7 linked regions of the Homo sapiens genome follow. The protein of the gene in region 2 purifies or fractionates together with the protein of the main gene of each other region. This does not show direct contact. Each region holds a gene or a part of one and is shown on either strand. Other genes may lie near its edges.

Region 1 (3,500 bases), on a different chromosome or scaffold from region 2:
GATCATGCAGTATATGGTAGAATGGCAACTTGAGGCCAGTTCTTAGGTGTGTTTGTTGTCCTTATTCAGAATGGAACAATGTGGTTTATTGTACAAAAATTTAAAAATGAATGTCGAAAAGTAGAAATTATTACCCAAATCTCACCCTCTGTGGTTGTTTGCTATGTGATCTTCCAGACTCACATATACATGTAGATAATTTTTTTTTTTTTTTTTTGAGACGGAGTCTTGCTCTGTCGCCCTGGCTGGAGTGCAGTGGCGCAATCTCGGCTCACTGCAGGCTCTGCCTCCTGGGTTCACGCCATTCTCCTGCCTCAGCCTCCCAAGTAGCTGGGACTACAGGCGCCCACCATCACCTCCAGCTAATTTTTTGTATTTTTAGTAGAGACGGGGTTTCACCATGTTAGCCAGGATGGTCTCGATCTCCTGACCTCATGATCCGCCTGCCTGGGCCTCCCAAAGTGCTGGGATTACAGGAGTGAGCCACTGTGGCCGTCCTCACATGTAGATACTTTTTTAACTTTTTGCTTTTAACCACTTAAGATATTGTGAACTCATTTCCAAATTAACATATATTTGCTTTTAACAGCTACATTTCCACTGGAGTTACGTACCATTTGTAATCTATTCCTGGAAATTTAGATGGTTACAACTGTTTTTTATTTTATTTATTTATTTATTTAGAGACGGAGTCTGACTCTGTCACCCAGGCTGGAGCGCAGTGGTGTGATCTTGGCTCACTGCAACTTCCACCTCCGGGGTTCAAGTGATTCTCCTGCCTCACCCTTCCGAGTAGCTGGGACTACGGGCGCACACCACCACGCCTGGCTAATTTTTGTATTTTTAGTAGAGACGGGGTTTCACCATGTTGGCCAGGATGGTATTGATCTCTTGACTTCATGATCTGCCGGCCTTAGCCTCCCAAAGTGCTGGGATTACAGGTGTGAGCCACCACGCCTGGCCTCAACTGTTTTTTATTATAAATAATGCTGTAGGCCGGGCGCGGTGGCTCACTTATGTAATCCCAGCACTTTGGGAGACTGAGGCGGGTGGATCCCGAGATCAGGAGATCGAGACCATTCTGGCTAACAAGGTGAAACCCCGTCTCTACTAAAAATACAAAAAATTAGCCGGGTGTGGTGGTGGGTGCCTGTAGTCCCAGCTACTTGGGAGGCTGAGGCAGGAGAATGGCGTGAACCTGGGAGGCGAAGCTTGCAGTGAGCAGAGATCGCACCACTGCCCTCCAGGCTGGGCGACAGAGCGAGACTCCGTCTCAAAAAATAATAATAAATAAATAAATAAATAAAGCTGTGTACAGCCTGGCCAACACTTTGGGAGGCCGAGGCAGGCAGATCACAAGGTCAGGAGTTCGAGACCAGCCTGACCAACATGGTGAAACCCCATCTCTACTAAAAATACAAAAGTTAGCCGGGCATGGTGGCACATGCCTGTAATCTCAGCTATTCAGCAGGCGGAGGCAGGAGAATCGCTTGAACCCACGAGGCGGAGGTTGCAGTGAGCCAAGATCGCGCCACTGCACTCCAGCTTGGGTGACAGGGCGAGACTCTGTCTCAAAAAAAAAAAGAAGAAAAAATCCTTTATTCTGGTTTTCCCGTAGCTTCCACAGATCCAAAAGGGTCAGGTTTATTTCCAGTAGCCAAATATTCTGCCATCTGGACTGAGATATCTCCTAGGTTGAGGTTATTATAGAGGTAGTAACCTGATTCTTTCTTCCTTTTCTCCTTCCCCTTTCCTCCTTTGCCTCCCTCCTCTTTTCTTCCTCTGTATTTATTTTATCATTCCTTCTTCCTTTCTTATTTCTAGGCCATATAGGCCAGCCAGGGAAAGGTTAGTAAGGGGTGACATTGATCCCTATGACCTGAGGAATATTCTTCGACCTTGAGACATGCCGATTATGCTCTTCTTTTCCTAGGATGCTCACAACTGTATTCCTGAGCTGGACAGTGAGACAGCCATGTTTTCTGTCTACGATGGACATGGAGGTAACTTTAACAGATCATATTGGTAACATTCTAGGACCCCAATTCCAGACGTTCCAGGGCAAGAACAGGTCCCTTTGTTCATTTACTTTCCAGGGTCTGGCCCTCATTATCATTTCCTGCGTGGTGCTGTTTTTCTGTATTCTGTCATTCTTTTTTCCCAGTAGGTACTGTATTGGTTTATAATCTCACCAGGACTTGTTTTAATCCAAAGAGCCTCTATCTTTTTTTATTTTTATTTTTTAAAATTTTTAGGCTGGGCACGCGGTAGGTCACACCTGTAATCCCGGCACAGTGGATCACGAGGTCAGGAGTTCGAGACCAGCCTGACCAATATGGTGAAACCCCATCTCTACTAAAAATACAAAAATTAGCTGGGCGTAGTGGTGGGCGCCTGTGGTCCCAGCTGCTCGGAAGGCTGAGGCAGGAGAATCGCTTGAACCTGGGAGGTGGAGGTTGCAGTGAGCCAAGACCATGCCACTGCACTCCAGCCTGGGCAACAGAGCAAGACTCTTGTCTTAAAAAACAAAAAAGTGTACCCAGTTGAGCTGATTCTTTATCTTTTTTTCACTGGAGAACTAAGTATACAGGTGAGAAAAGACGAGATATTTATACCCGAGAGAATTGATGGTGAAATCCATTTTTTTGGATCAGAACTTCCCCAAACAGTGTCCTTCAAATAGGGTTCAGGGGTGCTAAGATATTTATCCCCTCAACCCTTGGGGTTCACTCCAGTATGGCATATAAATATTGTATCACTTTCTATGTGTGGGGAGCAGTGCTCCAGGTGACCTTCCTTCCTTTCCTTCTAGGGGAGGAAGTTGCCTTGTACTGTGCCAAATATCTTCCTGATATCATCAAAGATCAGAAGGCCTACAAGGAAGGCAAGCTACAGAAGGTCTGTCTGCTTACACCGCCCATTCCTCACTTGTGTAGGCTTTTCCCTTGTTCTCTAGCCCTTGGGCTTTTCCTTTCTTTTTGTCCTCTAGCTGCTGCTGCTTATTTACTCTTGAAGAATTCTGTTCCTAAAACGAGCTTATTGGCCGCCTTTTAGACTTGCCTTATTATTCCTAGGCCTCTGAGCTGTTTTTATCTGTGAGTGTCTCTTAGTGTGGTGGCTCACACTCTTAATTTGTATTCCATCCTTGTGCTCAGGATTGTATATAGGGAGTTCATTTTGTACTAGTCTTAGACTATTTTGCTTATATTCAGGCTTTAGAAGATGCCTTCTTGGCTATTGACGCCAAATTGACCACTGAAGAAGTCATTAAAGAGCTGGCACAGATTGCAGGGCGACCCACTGAGGATGAAGATGAAAAAGAAAAAGTAGCTGATGAAGATGATGGTGAGTGTGGCATCCCTTGTTTGAGGGGAAATCAGCATTTTAAGAAATATTCTTTAATATTACTTATCAATTCTAAGATAGGATGGCTTTCTAGGGACCTGGGGAGTCCTTATGTTAAAGAAACCTATGATGTTCTCCTGCATTGTATGTGGTTA
Region 2 (3,500 bases):
AGATGCACCTTTAGGCTGTGCGTTATTATTCTTCATCTATGGCTTTCACTATTAAAGGATATGAGTGAAACAACATGGAAACATTTTTTTTCTACAAAAATGTAATGAGAAGATTTGGTATTTGCAATAACACATGCTAGGATCAAATTGTAGAGGCTTTTAAGTCACTGGGCCAATAACTTAAACCCAATGCTTTACTGCTGCCTGATTAAGTACATTTACGAAGATCTGATGTCTGATTTGAACGCACTCAACATTGGTTACTGTCAAAGACCAGATACTGAATTAGATGGTTCATTGATTTGCTCTAATATGGAAATATCTCAGATGATGATAGGTGCTAAGAATTAACCTTATATAAAAGTGCTTGTATTTATATTCTCTGACATAACAAACTGATAAACATGCTATCAAATGCTGTTTATGCAAGGAAAGCAGAGTGATTTTTTTTTTTTTTGGCTAAGGACGACAGTGAGATGCATACTTTTAATTTTTTAAATTTACTCTTTGGGAACAAAACCATTCAGCTATGCTTAATCTGATATTTTTTCCAATTATGTTGGAAAACACTAACAAACATATCACTTTTTTAACTTTGCTTTATAACACTTGAGTGCTTACCACTTGATGTGCCATTTAAAGGATAATTAATGGATAAACTAAAAGGATAATTATCGTGGAGTTTAATACAGTAGGCAAACTGCTCATTAATCCTTACAAGCATAGCTTTGTTATTATCATTTACTTAAAAAGATACCACAGGAAATTGGTATTTACCACCACATTAACTACGTATTATATATCCACACTGTATGTTTCTGCAGTAATTTTGACTTATTTCAAAACTAAACTTTATTTAAAATAAATCTTGTTGGCTAATCGATACTCTGGAAAATCAGACTTACAACTTTCATACTTTGTTCTCTCTTCCAAGGGTTTAATACTCATATTAAAGCTTCCTTTAGGAAAAGTTAAGTGAACCTCCAGCATAGCAATTCACTGAACTATCAAATAGTCATTAAAAATTATAAACATGAAAAAATAAAGATATATAGAAAAGGATATAAAAAATGACACTAACTAAAATTGATCAAGATTCAAGAGAACACAAATGTAAATAATTACATCAATATTCTGCAATGTTACTTAAATAATCAATAAAAATATCTTATGGAACATTTGGCATATAATTCACTCTATATAAATCTCAGATAATCATAACTTGCCCAACATTCATTTAAAAACCCATAATAATTTACCAAAAAAGGAAATGTGCCAATGTGTTAACAAGATTATGTCTGGGTTACATTTTTTTCCCTTTTATACATTTTTCTCATTTTCTATTAGAAGTTTGTATTTAAAAACCCAAAACTTTATTTAGTTTTTTAAGGTTTCAAATGTACTTTATTTCTTCAATAATGCCATATCTTAATGGGTACACAGTGCTTTAACTTGGCATCAACTACGAGCTGTTTTTTAAACAATTCATTATTACACCAGCTGGAATGATTACTGATCTCTCCATTCCTTTGGGGTGACCCTGCCAACAGGGGACAGGTTCCATTCTATTCTGATTTGTGTTGCTACCTATGTCCATATAGCAATACAGAAAGTGGTTCCACTAGCTAATACAGCACTACCATATTTATCATGAAAATCAGGTGTACGTTTCCGGTGGCTCTGCCTTGCCATTGTTTGCTGAATGCTTCAAACTTGGAGACGACTTGGTGCGTTTTTGACCAAGAGGAACATGGTGAAGGTGAAGACAGAACTGTGGCAATGCAGCTGCTGCTTTGGTGCAAATTCACTTCAGGTCCAAAACTTTATTTTAAAAAAAGTAAGTACTATATCACAAGTCCTTCTTTTGTAGATAAAAAATTGAGATAGAAAGGCTAAAATTTTTTTTAGAGACTGTAGTAACAGAGCTAGCATTTAAATCAGACTTCTGAATTGCTTATTTTATTAATATTAAATTGTTCTTTAAGGATACTTTAGCAGAGTTGCTCTGGGATATCCTGGGATAAGGAAGAAACATGAATATTATATGTCCTATTTTCCAGAGTATTAATCGGCTTATAAGATTTGTTGTTTGATGACAATGAATATTATTATTAATGAGCAAAAATCCTTCTTCCAGCATGTATACTTCAAACCACTAACATCATCTGAATTGTAAGCCATGAAGGTGTTAGGGAACAAGTCTATCCAATTGATTTTATGCCTTAAAGCTAAAGATATGGCTGTTGACAAAAAATGGGGGATCTGAGTCTTTTCAATAGACAGCTATTTATTTTACCATTGATATTCCATAACACAGTCCATCACAGAATTTTTACTTCAGCAAGAAGGGAAGGAATTTTAAATGGGAAGTAACCAACATCCATTAAATAACTTCTAATCAGCAGGCACTACTATTCTTTTGCATATATGATTCATTTAACCTTTTTAATACCTTAAGTGGTAGGACTTACAATCCACATTTTACAGATTAAGAAATCAAGTCTCAGAAAACGTTAAGCTATCTGCCTAAGGTGTCACAACTAGAATGTCAGGGTTTCAACCCAGATCTTGCTAGTTCAAAAGCCTGCCTCCTACAACACTGTCTCCCGGAATGCTTATAAATCCAGAATCCTTAAAGAATAACTGGTTAAAATAAAGCCACAGCATTAAGATTATGAAATCTTAATTATGAAATTATGAGGCGTTTAACCAAGAGCACCTACTAATCACATCCGACCAGGACATTACCTTTATTTTTCTTCTTTTAAAAATTAATTATTATGGGTACATAACAGTTGTATATATTTAGGGCATTACCTTTAATTCCAAGGCTTCTGAGAGTAATTTCTGAGCATTTTTCCTCAACGACTCGGTTTTGGGATCACTTCTAACTTCAATAGAAGGTCTATTTGAATGTTTTTCAGTGAAAGTTTTCCACTCAGTGTAAACTTCTCTGGCAAGAGAAGCCACTTCTGAATCTGAGTGTTTACGCATCTTGTTCACAGTGTGACCTGGAACAGGAAGAGAAAAACCAAAGGAAAGGTTGTTACATCTTCTTCTGAGAAGCGCAGGACTAGATGGACTGACGTGTGGCACTGAGAAAGTCATTCACACACCCAAGGATGTAAAGACTCTTGTGCAAAAGAAACCCATTTCACAAGGACTAAGATAATAAGATAATCACTGGGGGAGAACCAGCAGCCTAGCCAATGAATTAAGTCATAAACTAGAAGCAAAATCAATAGATTCTTAAAAAGAACAACAAAGGTAACTTCTTTAACCAAAAATTACTTTAAAAAAAATGAATTAAGCATTTATCTAGTTTTTTGGGGGAAGGGGGTACATACTGTATTTCAAGACAACAAAATAGCCCTAGTTATTATGGGAATATTATTTAGCTAATAAATGTGAAAAGACTGACAGAATGAGAACATTTTTTTGTAGCCCTGATGAAATAATTCATTCAGAGACAATCATCAGTGGATGAACTCATTCAATGA
Region 3 (3,500 bases), on a different chromosome or scaffold from region 2:
GCACTTTGGGAGGTTGAGGAGGGCGGATCACCTGAGGTCAGGAGTTCAAGACCAGTCTGACCAACATGGAGAAACCCCATCTCTACTAAAAATACAAAATTAGCAGGGCATGGTGGCAGGCGCCTGTAATCCCAGCTACTCGGGAGGCTGAGGCAGGCAGGAGAATCGCTTGAACCTGGGATGTGGAGGTTGCGATCACACCATTGCACTCCAGCCTGGGGAACAAGAGTGAAACTCCATCTCAAAAAAAAAAAAAAAAAAAAAAAAAAAAAAAAACCTGGTTATATAGAATAGCATCATTTTTACCAGCTCCCACATCAAGATTGCCTTGAAACTAAATATTTTAAGCTTTTTCCCCCATGCCATTTAATTTGTAATTTTTAAAATAAACAGTATTTGAAAGCTTCTAAGACATCTGCTTTCTGTAGGTTGGAACATGTGACCAGTTGAAACAGGGCCTTCTATCAAGTTCATTTTTATGCTTTGTGCATTACCCTTATACTAGAATCACTTGTGCATTACCCTTATACTAGAATCACAGATTTCCTCTGCTTTGCCTGCCAGTTAGCAGCTTGTTTCTTAGTGCTGAAAAAAATTTTTTTTTATTTTTCTTAAATGCCTTTTATGAAAACTATCAATAAAAAATTTATATCTCTATTCCCCCAAGGTCTTAAATTTAATTGTATCAGAAAAATTTTAAGGGAGGGAGAATTTGAAATCTGATTGTACTATCTTAAAAAGCAGAATACTTTTAAATACTGTAAATATGGGTATTCATAGCTGATCCTTTTTTCCTGTTTCTAGGACTATCCTATTAAGTGTAATCTCACTGCTTAATGAGCCCAACACCTTCTCCCCAGCCAATGTCGATGCTTCAGTTATGTTCAGGAAATGGAGAGACAGTAAAGGAAAAGACAAAGAATATGCTGAAATTATTAGGTAAGGTTTTTTTTTTTATTACCTCAAGTTATACAAAACCAAAATATATTCTGGAACCAAGGGTTTAAATCAAACTTAAATATCCTGTCCATTCCAGGATAATTTTCCTCTATTAGATTTATAGTGTGGGAAGAGAAGATTTCTGCCTGAGCCTAAAGAACTTTGCTGTTTACCGAGAGAACAGCCACTAGAAGATAAGGCAGTAGCAGACCTGATTTTCTAGGAACCAGAACTTCTAGGTTCTGGCCAGGCATGGTGGCTCATGCCTGTAATCCCAGCACTTTGGGAGGCTGAGGCAGGCGGATCACCTGAGGTCAGGAGTTCGAGACCGGCTGGCCAACATGGTGAAACCCTGTCTCTACTAAAAATACAAAAATTAGCCAGGTGTGGTGGTGCACACCTGTCATCCCAGCTACTCAGGAGGCTGAGGCAGGAGAATTGCTTGAACCCGGGAGTTGAATGTTGCAGTGAGCTGAGATCACACCACTGCACTCCAGCCTGGGCGACAGTGCGAGACTCCATCTCAAAAAAAAAAAAAAATTGAATAAATAAAGCCTTCCAGTTTATTGGCATTCCTGACCATAGCAGCAAGGATTGTTTGGAAATCCTCATTATCAGCAACACTAATGTATGGTATAACAGAGCCCTAGAATAAGATTCAGGGGACTTGGAATCTACTCATGGGACCATTTATCAGATAATTTTTGGGGTCTTTTACTTTCTCCTCTGTATAAAATGGAAAAAAGCTTAACCTTTAATCTCTTAGGACATCAGGTTCTTATAATAGTACCCAAGAAATTTGCAATAAATACAAACCCTACACTTCCCCTACCCTCCACCTCTTTTTTATTTGTTTCTAATTAATTTTTTTTTTCTTTTTGAGATGGAGTCTTACTCTGTCATCCAGGCCGGAGTGCAGTGGTGTGATCTCGGCTCACTGCAGCCTCTATCTCCTGGGTTCAAGCAATTCTCCTGCCTCAGCCTCCCGAGTAGCTGGGATTATAGGCGCCTACCACCATGCCCAGCTAATTTTTGGATTTTTAGTAGTGACAGGGTTTCACCATGTTGGCCAAGCTAGTCTCGAACTCCTGACCTCATGATCCACCCGCCTTGGCCTCCCAAAGTGCTGGAATTACAGGCGTGAGCCACTGCACTCAGCCTCCTCCACCTCTTTTTAAAGAAACAGACATGGTCTTACTCTGTTGCCTGGGCTGGAGTGCAATGGTGTGATTACATGGTAACTTCAAATTCCCGGGCTCAGGCAGTCCTCCCACCTGGGCCTCCTGAGTAACTAAGACTATAGGCATGCACCACCACACCCAGCTAATTTCTATTATTATTTTTGTAGAGATGAGGTCTTGCTGTGTTGCCCAGCCTGGTCTTGAACTCTTGGCCTCAAGTGATCCTCCTGCCTCAGCCTCCCAAAGCTCTGGGATTATAGGTGTGAGCCACCGTGCCTGGCCTCCACCCCCCTTGATATTACATTTTTATTTCTTAAAATAGAGACCCCAAATACAGTTACAGCTTCCTCTGTGCATAGGAGTTGACTAAGCATTGGCATTTATACAAATAAGAATAAAATCTAGTTGGCTTGAGACCATGTGATATGAAAAAAGTTAAAACAATGCTGGGAAAGGACATGAGGTGACTGCTGAGTAATATAAAATCAGCAGTTCTAAGTTTTCTGCCCATTGGGATCACTTTTAAACTGTCCCTAAACAATAGCTGTCTTTTATGGGATTACAAGGACAGAGTTTGGGCATCTGTGTGTGTATATATATCTCACCTAGGTGACTGATGTGTACCAAACATTGAAGATAATTAGTAGAAATATTAAGATCCTACAGAAATTTAGAGGAGTGGGAGTGTACTAAGGATTGAAAGATCAGAAAGCTTAGGTATACATATTCCCAAGGTACTTCTATATATTTCTTAATTTGTTTAAGGGTCCGTTTATCTCATTCTATCTATTCCTTAATGACCTAGTACAGTACCTGACACTAAGCAACAGCTTTGTGTTAGGTACTCATTAAGGCATAGCCTGTCTCCTTAGGGAGCTCACTTTATTAGCATTTGAAAACAAATGACCATGTAGTATTATACCTATAGAAGCCTAAACAAGATACACTGGGAGAAATATATAATGTAATAGATTTCCTAGCAGAGATAATTCCTTATAACCAATACTTTTTCAGGTGAAAAAAGGGAAAATACCCATGTTTGCTAAAATACAGGAGTATAACAGCATGACATGTTAAGGGGATTACAAATGCTTGAGTGTAAATTCTGATGTGGGAAATATTAGAAAATTAAGCAAGAGAGGCACCAGGGTCTTCAAAGACATTGAAGTCATGATAAGAGTATGGTTCTTAATGTAAGAAGTGATGGGGTACCACTTAAATATTTTTGGGAGGGAAGAGGTGATGCTATTTGAGTTCTGATAAAAGAATTGGCTGCCTGGTGTGGTAGCTCACACCTGTAATCCCAACATTTTGAGGCGGGTGGATCACCTGAGGTCAAGAGTTCGAGACCAACCTGGCCAACATGGTGAAATCCCATCT
Region 4 (3,500 bases), on a different chromosome or scaffold from region 2:
ATTTATTAATAAGGCTTATATTATATTTTTATTATTGCAAAGTAACTTATGTCTGGTTCAAAACTACCAAAAGGCTTATAATAAAATATACTTGTTCCTTGCCCTACCCATCCTCAGTCTTCTTCCCTAAAGGCTTTCAGTTTTTTCAGTTATTTATTCTGGCATTTAAAAACACCTGTATTTCTTGGCCGGGCGCGGTTGCTCACGCCTGTAATCCCAGCACTTTGGGAGGCCAAGGCAGGCGGATCACGAGGTCAGGAGATCGAGACCATCCTGGCTAACACGGTGAAACCCCGTCTCTACCAAAAATACAAAAAAAAAAATCAGTTGGGTGTGGTGGCAGGTGCCTGTAGTCCCGGCCACTTGGGAGGCTGAGGCAGGAGAATGGCGTGAACCCAGGAGGCAGAGTTTTCATTGAGCCGAGATCGCGCCACTGCACTGCAGCCTGGGTGACAGAGCAAGACTCCGTCTCAAAAATAAATAATTAATTAAATTTAAAAAAAAACAACAAACACCTGTATTTCTTTTCTTTTCTTTTTTTTTTTTTTTTTTTGAGATGGAGTCTCACTCTGTCACCCAGACTGGAGTGCAGTGGCATGATCTTGGCTCACTGCAACCTCTGCTTCTCGGGTTCAAGTGATTCTTCTGCCTCAGCCTCCTGAGTAGCTGGGACTATAGGTGCGTGCTCCACACCCAGCTAATTTTTGTATTTTTAGTAGAGACAGGGTTTTACCATATTGGCCAGGCTGGTGTCGAACTCCTGACCTCATGATCCGCCTGCCTTGGCCTCCCAAAGTGCTGGGATTACAGGCGTGAGCCACTGCGCCCAGCCTAAAAACACCTGTATTTCTAAGAACAAGAGTATGGTGTTATATTTTTAGTCACTTATTTTAGACGTTACCTGTCGACTCTGCTAAATTAGTATTTAGTATTTACGTGATTATGCTTATGCAAATATTAGTTATAACTGAGCAGTTTTATTTCTTTTTGTTTTTCCTAAGGGTAATAATTGCGTTTGCTTTTCATGTGTTTGGGGCTTTTTTGTATTTCTTGCTCATTCCTCCCACACCTTTCAGTAGCCTCACCACATCAAACAACTTAATGATTAAGTAATTTATCAGTTCTGATTTGTTTTGGAGACACTTTTTCTGAAGAGCACTATTTTTCTTTCAGGGCTTATTGCTCTGCAGATCTGCTACAGAACTGTCACCTGGGACTTAACTTTCCTATCATCCTTAAGATTTCTTTGTCCTTTCTCCAGGGTTGACTTTTCTGTTTCTTGATTCTCATATTCTCATATTTCTTGGTTTATTTCCTTGCACAGTAGTACATCCTTCTGTACTTTTAGCAGATTAAAAAGCTGGTACAACACTAGAGGGCATGGGTGATGATAGTCTTCAATGAATTTCACATCTTTCCTTTTCTTGGTCTACTCTCTTGTTTTGGTGGACATCCTCTAGTAGATTTCAGAGAAAGAGTGTATAGGAAATAAATTTTATTAATCCTTCTCTTCTGAAAATATAATTATTGTAGCTTCACTCCTGATTAATAGTTTGGCTGGGAATACAATTCTAAGTTGGAAACAATTTTTCTTATTTTACATTCAGTGTTGCTTTTGAGAAATCCTAAACTGTTCAGATTTTGATCCTATTGTATGTCATCTTTTTTTTCCGCCTTGCCAGAGCTTGTAAGAGTTTCCCTTTGTTCTAAAGGTTCTAAAACTATGAAGTACTTTTCTGTGGGTCTATTTTTCTTCATTTTTCTGGGTACTTGTTGGATCCTTTTGATCTAGAAACCTTGGCTGTTCAGGAAGTTTTCTGCAATTATGTCATTAATTGTTTCGTCCCTCTGTTTTCTATGGAATTTTATTATTCAGACATTGGACCTCTTGGACAGACCATTTAAGTTTTTTTTCTTCTTTTTTTCATCTGTATGTCTTTTCCTTCTTGAGAGATTTCTGCACCTTTATCTTTCTGTCTTCTCTATTTTGCCATCAAGGTTTTAATTTCTTTCTCTTTTTTTAAAGTTTTTAAAATCAGGCAGTCTTTCATGCCAGAGAAGGCTCAGAGACTCCAAGGTTTTAATTTCTAAAAGTTCATTTTTGGTTTTTGAATTGTCCTTTTTAAAACATAATATCCTCTTGTTTCATGGGTTGTAAATATCTCCTCTCTGTTTTCTCCATGTTATTTTTCTTTTTATGTGGTCTCTGTTCTGCATGTTAAAGGCTTTTCTTAGGTGTCATGTAATTCTTCATTGTAGTTTTTTTATTTGGGGATGAAAAAGGTGATTGACAGTTTGGAATATATAGGTGGGGTTTCTGCATGGAATATATAGGTGGGGTTTGTTGACTTTGAGCAGTACTATTGAATGATGTGGGTGGGCCTTTTGTTGGGGAACCCTTGATTTAAGTATCCTTTTGGTTTTCCTCGTCTGTGAGCGAGATTCCCCAGAGAGTGCTCTTCCAATCTCCTGCCTGAAACGAAAGGACTGGCTGCCAGCATTCCTAGAGCTAAGTGGTAGAAGGTGGCTGAGTGGCTTCTCATTCAGCTGTTTTCAGGACAGTACTATTTTTAGATTATAGTGCCCATGCCTTCAACTTTACTAGTCAACTCGTAATCCAAAGGCTTTCTGTTTTACCCTTTCCAGAGATTAACCTCTGGATTTCTACTGCAGATGGAAAGGAGATGAGTAGGCAGGGAGGAAGATCTATTTCTCAACCAGTTTTTACTTAGTCCTCCATAACCTTAGTATCCATCCCCAGTTGCAGATCCGTTTGAGGATTCTGCAGTGTAATCACTTTGGCTCTCAGCTTTCCCCACTGTTTAGGATTTATCTTTTTAAATTCTGCTAAGTTAGTTTCTACTCATCTGTCTACTTTCTAATTTTCTAAAATTTGGGTCTTTATGAATTTCTTTCTCTCTCTCTCTCTCTCTCTCTTTCTTTTCTTTCTTTCTTTCTTTTTCTTTTCCTCCTTTCCCTCCCTTCTCTTTTTTCCTTTCCTTTCCCTTACTTTCCCTCCCTCCCTCCCTCCCTCCCTCCCTCCCTCCCTCCCTCCCTTCCTTCCTTCCTTCCTTCTTTCCTTCCTCCCTTCCTTCCTTCTCTTTCCTCTATGCTGCCCAGATTGGAGTGCAGTGGTCTGATCACAGCTCACTGCAGCATCAACTTCCGGGGCTCAAGCGATCCTCCCGCCTCAGCCTCCTAAGTAGCTGGGACTACAGGTGCACACCACCATGCCCAGCTACTTTTTTTAGATTTATTTTTAGTAAAGGCAAGGTCTTGCTATGTTGCCCAGGCGTGGGTACATCTCTTTACTATGGTTTATTGGGATTTAGGGAAAGAGGGAAATTAGATATGTGTGTTTAATGTACCATCTTAACCTGCAAATTAGGCTTATATTAATAAGGACTATTTTCCTTGCAAATAATAGAAGTCCAATTCAAACTAGCTTAGGGGAAAGGTCATTGGCTGCAGAAGCTGGGAAGAATAGCTCAGGATGAAGG
Region 5 (3,500 bases), on a different chromosome or scaffold from region 2:
TGAGCTGAGATTGCACCATTGCAGTCCAGCCTGGGCAACAAGAACGAGACTCTGTCTCAAAAAAAAAAAAGTGTACCCATTTAAAAAATCTATACAGATGAGGGATGAGCAGACAAAAAGGAGTACAGATTGTCTCTGCCCCATCTTCATCTTTTGATCAAAGTAAAGACAAATAAAACTGTAAGCTAAATGGGTGAGTTGTGTAATGTTTTTCTCTTAATTACCATTTTACTGACATGTCAGCAGAAGCCTAACTTTCTGGAGCTAGGAAGTCTTGTGGCTAAAATCACAGTGTTGTCTTTTCTCTAATTCATTCTGTTATAGGCTACACAATAAAAAAAAGTAGATAAAATGATCTTTAAAATTATCCTTCCAGTAAAAATCATCAAAAGATTAAAAAGGAATGTGAAAGGTTATGGTTTTGTGGTATTTAACCTGAAAGGATAACTTTAATTTAACAAAAATACATAGCTTTGCTATAAAGAAATGCTATCTGAATAATCTCTGTATCTGCCAAAAGAGGAAAAATGGAAGGAAACGAGAATCAATTCAAATAAGAGCTTCATTTAATTGTTGAACAATAAGAATATAATTTCTAGACATTGGAGTAGGTTATTGAGAATAGGATTTTACTTTAAAGTATTTCAGAATAGGGTAATCACGTCTTAGATAATTTGCATAACTTCGGGTATACCTGGAAACAAATAAGACCAAGAGCTACTTGCCTCCCTCTCCCCATCTATTTGACACAAAATCTTACATTTAAAATTGAAAATGCATAATTTTCTTGGTTTTCAGTGAGTGACTGACCAATATGGAAAATACAAATATATTTTCTAACATAAAAGCCATGATGCTCTTTCAAATTAGTGGACAAAATTAATTAAATTGCTTTTGACTATTACAAGAAAAAAATCTTATAATTTCAAGAGTTGATACTTTATTTTAGAAATAACATTGCATTCTATTGAATGCATTTTTGAATATGACTGAATGATCTTAGTATTTTTTCTTTCTTTTTTTTTTTTTGGAGACGGAGTTTCGCTCTTGTTGCCCAGGCTGGAGTGCAACAGTCTGATCTCGGCTCACTGCAACTTCCACCTCCCGGGTTCAAATGATTTTCCTGCCTCAGCTTCCCGAGTAGCTGGAATTACAGGCATCCGCCACCAGGCCTGGCTAATTTTTGTATTTTTATTAGAGACAGGGTTTCACCATGTTGGCCAGGGTAGTCTTGAACTCCTGACCTCAGGTGATCCACTGGCCTCAGCCTCCCAGAGTGCTGAGATTACAGGTCTGAGCCACACTGCGCACTGCAATCTTAGTATTTTCTAAGGCAGAATTCAAAGGGGGAGAAACATTTTTGTTGAAGATGCTTAAAGTATAAATACAGTAGGAGTTGATCAGAATTTCATCTGTTTTTGTAAGTAACCTGTGACTAAATCAAGAGATAAACCTAGTGAAGAAATTTTAGACAAAGGGAGCCGGTAAATAAATTAGTACTGACTTAGTATTGAAAGGATTTGCAAGGCCAGGGAGGATCTGTTTACAGACAGAAAAAGAGAGTTGAAAATGAGGGAGAAAGAAAAAATATTTCAGAATTAGGCTGTGTTCAGCTTCATTTGGAAATATTCTTGTTTGTTTTTTATTGGAAAAGTGCTATCTAAATTCCTTTTTTGTAATGCTTAGAATCCTAGATTAGCCCAGAGAAGCTTGCTTGTTTCATCTCTTAATTGATGTAGCAGTATTTGTAAACTAGATTTTAAGATCTTTGAAGCAGTAGTCTGTCTTAATTATAATTTATCTTGTCTTCTCTCCTGCTTAAGCACAGTACTAGAAAAAAACAAAACATTTTTAGTGAATAACTAGTACTTAGGGAGGATTCAGCATTCATTTAGGGAAAGAAGAGAAGGAATGGAAATTCTTCCCTTCTTGGATCCAGGGCTTCTGAATAGCTGAAGTTCAGATTTCAACATTTTCCAATTTCTTAATTCCTTTTCGTAGTGATGATGATCTTCTCTAAGTATTAAGGGGAGAGCCAGTTAAACTAATAGGAATTGATGAATGCCTGGTAAGTACCTTAAGCCTCCTAAAATTTTTAAAGAGTAAATAAAAATGAATACTTATTCAGTACCTACTGTTTGTGAAGTCTAGGTAAAGGTTAAAAGTATGGATTTTGGAGCTTGGATTTAAATCCTTGATCCATCATTTACTAGCATTGTGACCTTGGCCGAGTTTTTAAATCTCTACTGCAATTTCCTCATGTAAATGGTATAAATGGTAATGATAGTAGATTCTACCTTATAACATTGTTATGAGAGTTAAATGAGTTAATACAATTTTCTCGTATTCTCATTTTATTCTTGCCATAACCCTATGAAGTAGGTGCTGCTATATTTCTTTCATTATTCAATAAATGTTTGGAGTTCCTACTATGTGCTAGGTATTGTGCTGTACTGCGTGAGCAATGGTGAACAAAACTTGTAAGTCACCTTGATTTAAAAATACACCAATGAATAAATATTATAAGTTTGGGGAGGTGTGAGAGTGAGCTTAAGTGGTTAAATGTACATCTTGAATAATGTGTGAGTTTCAAAGTATACAAATGTTGGCAGGGAGCATTCATTTTACAGGTAAACATACTGGCATAGAAGGATTTTAGGCAACCTCATCAGGGTCACATAGCTAATAAATGTCAGAATGGGATTGAACCTGGGACTGTTAGATTCTACGCCTCCTCATTCATTCATTTATTCTCTCACTCATTCACATGCTCTGTTATGCTGTATGGTGTTGAGTACCATATTTCAGATATTGGCACATTCGGCTTGTATAAGGGGAGACGCTTTTTTGCAGTTGGACGGCCATTGAAGACAAGTTGGTCACCCCAAGTTTTCTTTCCAGTTCTTCTGAAAAACTCACTAAAGAAAAAGAAAGCAAGAAATACAGAAAAGTATAGAAAAATAATCCATATTCCCACCACCTAGAATTAAGTTGTTAACAAGATGAAAACTTCATACTGAAAAACCACCCTTTCTAGAGGCGATTTACCACTTATTCCTTGCCTTTCAAAATATTTACTTTTCAAGGTAATCTCTCCTTATTAATTTGAAAAAAAAAATGTTTCTTTTAAATAGAGATTGTTAACTTGGGGTCTGGCTAGGCTGTGAATCCTCTGATATTAAACAAAAGATTTTGTTGAAGGTGCTTATAAGGCTTTATTTTTCTTCCTTTCTGCTCTAGCCCCATATGTGCAGGATTTTCATTAGATCCTCAAAGAGTTCTGTGACCCCCACCCTCTCCCTCCTACCTTGTTACTTTGAAACATTCTCACTACAGATTTAGTGGGGAATTTGGTCATTTATTTGGATTATTAAGAGTTTGGAAACTGCTTCTAACTAAGCAGATGATGTGGTAACAAAGAAGGCTTATTTGTGAAATAGTGGGTCCAAGATTGATCACATCTTTCTGGTAAACCAGCCTTATGCCTACTCTCTTTTCTC
Region 6 (3,500 bases), on a different chromosome or scaffold from region 2:
ATGTCTGACACCAACTCTGACCCAGAAGTGGTAAATGTGGACAATTTATTGGCGGCTGCAGTAGTTCAAGAGCACAGTAATTCTGTAGGCGGCCAGGACACAGGAGCTACCTGGAGGACCAGCGGGCTTCTAGAGGAGCTGAATGCAGAGGCAGGTTGGTCTTCCCCATCCCCCTTCTCTAACGGTGTAATATGCATGTGTCCTGGAGCTGTTTTCCTTGTAGTGGACCCTGATGAGGAGAACAGGTCATACCAGAGACATCTGGCATTGAATGATTGGTTGTGACTATCCAGGCTGCCATTTATACCTGAAACAATTTGGATAGCTTGTCATTCATCTTTCCTACTCAGAAGGAAGTAGAAATAAGAGCATTTAAGACATTAATTGTAGGTATTGGTAGGTTTCAGTAGGCATATTTCTTGGATTAAAAATGCCCAATATTTGCAAAAATGACCCAGATATGCTCATATTCTTTGGCCAGTTCTTTCTCTCACTTTAATTCTGGGTAGTGACCTTGCAGCTTGGATAGGGAATCGTTGAATCTCTCCCTGTGGGGCTGGCTGTTCATACACAGCGCTGCCGCTGTTTCTTGTGCTTCTTGCTGTGGAGTGACCCTGTTAATTCCTCGTCAGTAAGTTCTCATTTGTCTTTTCTAACTCCTTTCTTTTAGTTTCTGTCTCTGTTAGCTCAGGAAAAAAAATCTCTGTCCCTGTCTTACATTTTTTTAGTTTTGTGATTATTCTTTAAGGTGGTATTTATTCACTAAAAAATCCACTGCTGTTACCTTTGAAAAACTTTCACAATACCTCCAAGTCTTCTTCAATATTTTCTTCAAAAGTTTCTTTCAGCATTCTAATTTAAACCTTGTTTTGTTGTTGTTGTGAAAATACTAGCACTGAACATTTAAGAAGAGAAGGGGATTGAGAGACTGCTTATGCAGTGTATAATTTCTTCAGTGTTGCTGAAAGATTATAGTTTTCTAGTTAATTTATAAATGCATTGGTTTTATGAGTTAATCTAATAGTTTAATCACTACCTAAAGTTATTTTTATGAAAAATGAGTTTTACAAAAAAATGAGTTATAGTTTAGAACTTTTTATATTGAGACAGAACTCCATTGATTGTTGTTGTCTTAAATTATTCCTTTCATAATCTTTGATTGGAATTACAGAAAAATCACTTGTTTGTTGACCTGATTGATTTACTGTAGCTAATTTTGGAACTGAACCTGAATTTAGTTTTGATTTTTTTTGACTGGTAACTGCTGCCTGTTTGTCCTTGGACCAGTTGTTTCTCCTCTGGACTTCAGTTTTTATATGTATAAATCCTTGTTTTGCCCAACAAGTGTCTTTTAAGGATTTATTAATATGTATTAATACAAATACTTTGAAAAGAAGTAATAATGCTTCTGGGCACAGTGGCTCACGTCTGTAAGCCCAGCACTTTGGGAGGCCGACGTGGGAGGATCACTTGAGGTCAGGAGTTCAAGACCAGCCTGATCAGCATGGTGAAACCCCGTCTCTATTAACAATACAAAAATTAGCTGGGCGTGATGGGTGTGGTGGTGGGCGTGGTGGTGGGCGCCTGTAATCTCAGCTGTGGAATTGCTTGAACCTGGGAGGCAGAGGTTGCAGTGAGCTAAGATTGTGCCACTGCACTCCAGCCTGGGTGACAAAACTAGACTGTATCCCCCCAAAAAAGAAAAAAGAAGTAATAATGCTTTATATCAGTGGAAAGTAGTTTGGCCACATTTTGTACAATATGTGTTTCTAAGTTATTTATTTATTTATTTATTTATTTGAGATGGAGTTTCGCTCTTGTTGCCCAAGCCAGAGTGCAATGGCGCGATCTCAGCTCACTGCAACCTCCGCCTCCTGGGTTCAAGCGATTCTCCTGCCTCAGGCTCCTGAGTAGCTGGGATTACAGGCGCGCACCACCACGCCTGGCTAATTTTTTGTAGAAATGGGGTTTTACCATGTTAGCCAGGCTGCTCTGGAACTCCTGACCTCAGATGATCCGCCTGCCTTGGCCTCCCAAAGTGCTGGGATTACAGGCGTGAACCACTGCACCCAGCCTTGTAATTTGTATATTAGATGGTTTATCTTTGTTTTTCATCCTTTGGCAATTAAGTCATCCATTCCACTTCAGTTTTATTTCTCTGTTTTCTGAGTCTTGCCGTTAAATATAGACCATTTTATGGTAAAGTTTTGGGGTAAAAAATGAATGATTACCAACGTTTTGCTCTTCATATGCAGAATTCTTAATATTAGATTGAACCGTATGGAATTGTTAATATTTGACTTTTTGACCTACAAAAAATCAGCCATTTCTTATGACTTGACCGAATAATGCAAAGTTTGCGGTTTTAAAATATCATTAAAGTTTAGCTTTTGGGATGGCATTCACATTTTCAGATTCAAGTAATTGTTAGCCTATTTAAAAATCACTCTTAAGAAACTACAACCATTCTTTTTAAGAAATAAAACGTGGTAAAAGTATGTGAGGAGGAAAACAACTGTGGCTTCAGATGTTTTCCTTCCCTTTGCCCTTCCCATGCCAAAGCTATCCTAAATTGGATATTTAATGTGTGGTATTCCTGTGTATTTCTTTATATATTTGTACTACATTTGTTATATATCTAAATAAGCATGTTTTTAAAACTAATTGGTATCACATTGAAGGTAATCATTTGAAATGTGCTTTTTTAGTTAAACATTTTATGAGTTTTGTTGTTGTTATGTGTGGCTCTAGTTCATTCATTTTCCACTGCTATTTAGTATTCCACTATATGAATATATCACAATTTACCCATTCTCTTGTTGGACATTTAGGGTGCTATTTTAAGTGATACTGCTCTTAACATTTCTTTATGTGTTTTTTGGTATATGTATATGATAATTTCTCTAGGATATAATTAATATATAGAGAGAGCATTTGTGCATATTGGACTATAAATTTTGTGTAGGTTTCTGTATATCATAGGATGCAGTCACCACTGCTCAGCAGATCCCCATGACATTTTGTTATGAAGCTTATTGGCTCTTTCAAAGGCATTTTTTTTTCTTAAATCTGACAATACTGGTATGTGGGTAATAAATAAAAATAATACTGTAGTCTTGATGTGATTATCATAGTGGAACTCATCTTGTGAAGATATCTGAATGTGCTTACAGTGTCTCAATAAAATATTAATAGAATTTATGCTTAGGAGCCAGTTAATAGTTTTGAGGCTTGGACTATTAGTCAGATGGTCATTCTTATGGTGTGAGTGTAAGTTAAAATTTTAATGGTTAATCTGGGTCCTGTCTTTCCCTTTCACAACAAAATAGCAAGCCTAGTTATTGAGCAGACTATTCAGGGGTTCACTTTAATCAACAGCAGCATCTCAACCCAGGTCCACAGCCCCATCCCATTTAGGATCACATAGGTACGCACTAAAGATAGAGTAGGTTGCCTTTTTCCAAGCAATTAGATGATTATCTTGCATCCAAAATATATAT
Region 7 (3,500 bases), on a different chromosome or scaffold from region 2:
AAATAGCTTTCAACTGCTCTTGCGACTACCGCTTTTTAAGCTCTCTGAACGGTTAAAAAAGTAAAACATGCTTGTGTGAATCTAGCTTCTTTCTTCCTTTCTTTCTTCTCTCTTTCTCCCCTTCCCCTTCCCTTTCTTCTTTACAGTTATACATTAAGTTTAGCAGACTCTAAACTGGGAGCGAGTTCTTTTTGCACAATTCACTTTTCTGTCTTTTTTTTCCCCTCATTCCTCTGTCAGGTGACGATTCATTAAAATTATGGGACATCCGACAATTTAATAAACCACTTTTTTCAGCCTCGGGTCTTCCCACCATGTTCCCAATGTAAGTAGCATATTTTAAATATTTGATCAGCATAGAAGAATGGAAAAGAAGTACTTTTACTTTAATGTTAATTTATATCATACGTCTTTTAGATCTTCTGGAAAAGAGACTTGAGAGAGTGATCAAAATCTGTTTTTTGAAAAATATGTATTTTTTTTATTTTTCACATTCCTCAGACTTCAAGAACTTTTTTGAAGTTAAAATTATGTATTTGATTTATTCATGTGTTTGTGTGTATTGTATGCACGCACAAGTCTTGGAGTATTAAAATATATTTTAAGAGATTCAGTTGTTCTTTTAATATTGTATAAATGACAAGGTAGGCCTTTTAAAATTTGTGGTTTTTAAAAATTTGAGCTCTAGTCAGCCAGGCATGGTGGCTCATGCCTGTAATCCCAGCACTTTGGGAGGCCGAGGCGGGCAGATCACGAGGTCAGGAGATTAAGACCATCCTGGCTAACAACGGTGAAACCCCGTCTCTACTAAAAATACAAAAAATTAGCCGTGGTGGCGGGTGCCTGTAGTCCCAGCTACTCGGGAGGCTGAGGCAGGAGAATGGTGTGAACCTGGGAGGCGGAGCTTACAGTGAGCCAAGATTGCGCCACTGCACTCCAGCCTGGGGGACAGAGCCAGACTCCATCTCAAAAAAAAAAAAAAAAAAAAATTGAGCTCTAATACCTTCAAGGCAGTTTTTAATATTACTGAGCATTTATAGTACAGCTTATTTTCTCATTTTTTAAATCATTCAAATCAATAATTCAGCATCCTTCACTTGTTCAGACTGTCTTGCTGTGGGTAGCTGAACGCTGTTATCTCCAATCTACTAAATTGGCACCTGAAACTTTTAAAGGTTTTTTTGAAGCAGCTGAGGCAAAACTTGACCTCTAAGTCCTATAGTTGGTGCTTAGGCAAATTGTTCTATTTTGGTAGAAATGAAATAATGGTCAACAGAGAAGAGCATGAAGATAATGGAAGTGTCAAGGGAAGGAAGCTGTATGAAAGCTGTATGATAATGCAGTACTAACTCTAACATGTCTGCTGCCCATGGCATTTTATGTTAAAACGAACAAACATGAGTTTATAGCTGATGATAATTTTTTGAGCTATTATACCTGCTACAAGTAATGCTAACTATATAACTTCTGATGGTAATTTTTTGAGCTATTATACCTGCTGCAAGTAATGCTAACTATATAACTTCTTTGGGTCATGTCTTAGATTAGTCACAATCAGATGGCCAGACTGCTAACAACAAAAGCCTTGGAATCATAGCCATCAATTAGGTTCCAGCAATGCAACCTGTGGCTCATTTCATGGTGCTCAACTTGATATAACTCAAATTATTTGGGGGTGATGGTAGTGGTGTTAGTGAAAATAGTTTTTAAAATGGCCAAAATAATCATTACTTAGACATTAGTCAAATATATATCTGTCCGTAGACACTCTTAATGTCTATATTGAGTCTTTTTATACTTCCTTTACATTAAAAAAATTACAATGTAGAAGTTAAAAAGCACAGATTCTGGAGTCTGACTGCCTAAGTTTGAATCCCAGCTGTGCTACTTACTTTTGTTGCCGTGTGCAAGGTGTAATTAAATTATTTTCTTCAGTTCCCTCATCAGTAAAATGTGGATAATAACTACCACATAGGATTATTGTGACGATTAAACAAATTAATATAAGTGCTTGACTCATAAGCCCTATATAGGAGTTACAGAGATGTTTATATTTTATTTAATTCACTAATGATTGCTGGACTGTTGTGGAGGTCATAAGCTTATACTCGTAAACTCTTTTTTTCTGTAGGACTGACTGCTGTTTCAGTCCAGATGATAAGCTCATAGTCACTGGTACATCTATTCAAAGAGGATGTGGCAGCGGCAAACTTGTTTTCTTTGAGCGTAGGACTTTCCAAAGGGTGTATGAAATAGACATCACAGATGCGGTACGTATATTCTTTTCTCCTCAGCCTTGAGAATACATAAAGTTTGCCTCTTACCCATCTTTTGGTTTTGTTTGTTAAGTAGAATATAAGCCCTGGCCCTTAGAGCACGGTGATAGCTGCTTTTCACTCTAGCGTAGGAGTTATCAGTATGTTGTGGATGGCTGAGCTACCCTATCCCTTTCCACAACCCAATATTTCCTATGGACCTACACTTTAGTAGGAATTTCAGCTGGGTTTCCCTCTCTGCCAAACAAATTGAGGAGTGAGGAAGATGATCATCATGTAGGATACAGAAAGGAGCATCCCACAATGGGCATGTTTGTGAGGATCTAGGGATTGTCGACAGAAGTGAAAGATTAATAAGTGACGAAGTTTAACATTGTTCCCGAAACCATGAAAACTTTGACAGAACTCTGCTTGTGTGGGTTGTAGTCATTAAAGTCAGGCTCAGCTTGCGCTGAACTTAATTGCTATTTAATTATTTGGAAGTTTAAAGCATTTCAGATTTAACTTCAACACCTTAAAAAAACACATTAGTTTTCTTTACAGATTTATATGAACACTAAAACACCAGCATTCACTGATGCATTCATTCATTTGTTCATGTCCTGAGACTGAGACTGGAGCCACATGTAATACAATAAGAATGAAAATTCCCAGAGGAAAATTTGAATTCCTTTAAGCTGTATATTATTATTTACATGGTAAAGCAAATCATTGTAATTTTCTGAGTATGAAACAGGCCAATTAATGTCTGTGTAAATTTTCTTTGGCTCATTGTCAAATCTTTTAGTAATATCCTATATCTTAAACAGTGCTCTTATGTAGGTTTTTCCAGTTGTTTCAGCTCTTTGTAAACAGTTGAGACATATTATGCACTTACGTGACTCAGACAATTGAACAACTGTTTTTAAATTACCAGCAAAAAACTCCTGTCTCTAATGTTCTAGTATTACTATGAAGTCTTAATTTGCGGGTTCTGAATGTAAAACCACGGTATAGAGTATTATAGGAAAAGTGAAATAAAAATGAGATTAATTCTAGATGAGTACTTATGTTTAATAGATTCTAATCTCATGACGTAATTTGAAATGTGCCAGCACTCACAGTGCTTTTTCTGGGTGCATTAGGAGCCAACTAAAACACTAGAATCAAAGAAAACAATTGAATCTATCAACTTTCATCTCAGAAAGTAAAATTATTGTAATTGGTTGTTCCAGAAATAAGCTG

Evidence for each region.
Region 1: the proteins of TCEANC2 (region 2) and PPM1G purify together in Homo sapiens (affinity purification with mass spectrometry; one large-scale study listed by BioGRID and IntAct). This does not show direct contact.
Region 3: the proteins of TCEANC2 (region 2) and UBE2R2 purify together in Homo sapiens (affinity purification with mass spectrometry; 2 studies listed by BioGRID and IntAct, with this or other methods). This does not show direct contact.
Region 4: the proteins of TCEANC2 (region 2) and SLC4A1AP purify together in Homo sapiens (affinity purification with mass spectrometry; 2 studies listed by BioGRID and IntAct, with this or other methods). This does not show direct contact.
Region 5: the proteins of TCEANC2 (region 2) and ANKRD17 purify together in Homo sapiens (affinity purification with mass spectrometry; 2 studies listed by BioGRID and IntAct, with this or other methods). This does not show direct contact.
Region 6: the proteins of TCEANC2 (region 2) and ARK2N purify together in Homo sapiens (affinity purification with mass spectrometry; 2 studies listed by BioGRID and IntAct, with this or other methods). This does not show direct contact.
Region 7: the proteins of TCEANC2 (region 2) and WDR70 purify together in Homo sapiens (affinity purification with mass spectrometry; 2 studies listed by BioGRID and IntAct, with this or other methods). This does not show direct contact.

Annotation. Positions count from the first base shown.
Region 1 is NC_000002.12:27,385,592-27,389,091, reverse strand, and holds part of PPM1G (protein phosphatase 1G), read left to right. Parts: intron 1-1,933; coding exon 1,934-2,003; intron 2,004-2,812; coding exon 2,813-2,898; intron 2,899-3,212; coding exon 3,213-3,345; intron 3,346-3,500.
Region 2 is NC_000001.11:54,088,108-54,091,607, reverse strand, and holds part of TCEANC2 (transcription elongation factor A N-terminal and central domain-containing protein 2), read right to left. Parts: intron 3,012-3,500; coding exon 2,818-3,011; intron 1-2,817.
Region 3 is NC_000009.12:33,911,160-33,914,659, forward strand, and holds part of UBE2R2 (ubiquitin-conjugating enzyme E2 R2), read left to right. Parts: intron 1-804; coding exon 805-939; intron 940-3,500. UniProt on the Homo sapiens protein: E2 ubiquitin-conjugating enzyme that accepts ubiquitin from an E1 ubiquitin-activating protein, and catalyzes its covalent attachment to other proteins by an E3 ubiquitin-protein ligase complex.
Region 4 is NC_000002.12:27,670,389-27,673,888, forward strand, and holds part of SLC4A1AP (kanadaptin), read left to right. Parts: intron 1-3,500.
Region 5 is NC_000004.12:73,252,299-73,255,798, reverse strand, and holds part of ANKRD17 (ankyrin repeat domain-containing protein 17), read left to right. Parts: intron 1-3,500.
Region 6 is NC_000018.10:46,240,034-46,243,533, forward strand, and holds part of ARK2N (protein ARK2N), read left to right. Parts: coding exon 1-154; intron 155-3,500. UniProt on the Homo sapiens protein: AMPK substrate important for exercise capacity and skeletal muscle function.
Region 7 is NC_000005.10:37,700,818-37,704,317, forward strand, and holds part of WDR70 (WD repeat-containing protein 70), read left to right. Parts: intron 1-240; coding exon 241-325; intron 326-2,131; coding exon 2,132-2,270; intron 2,271-3,500.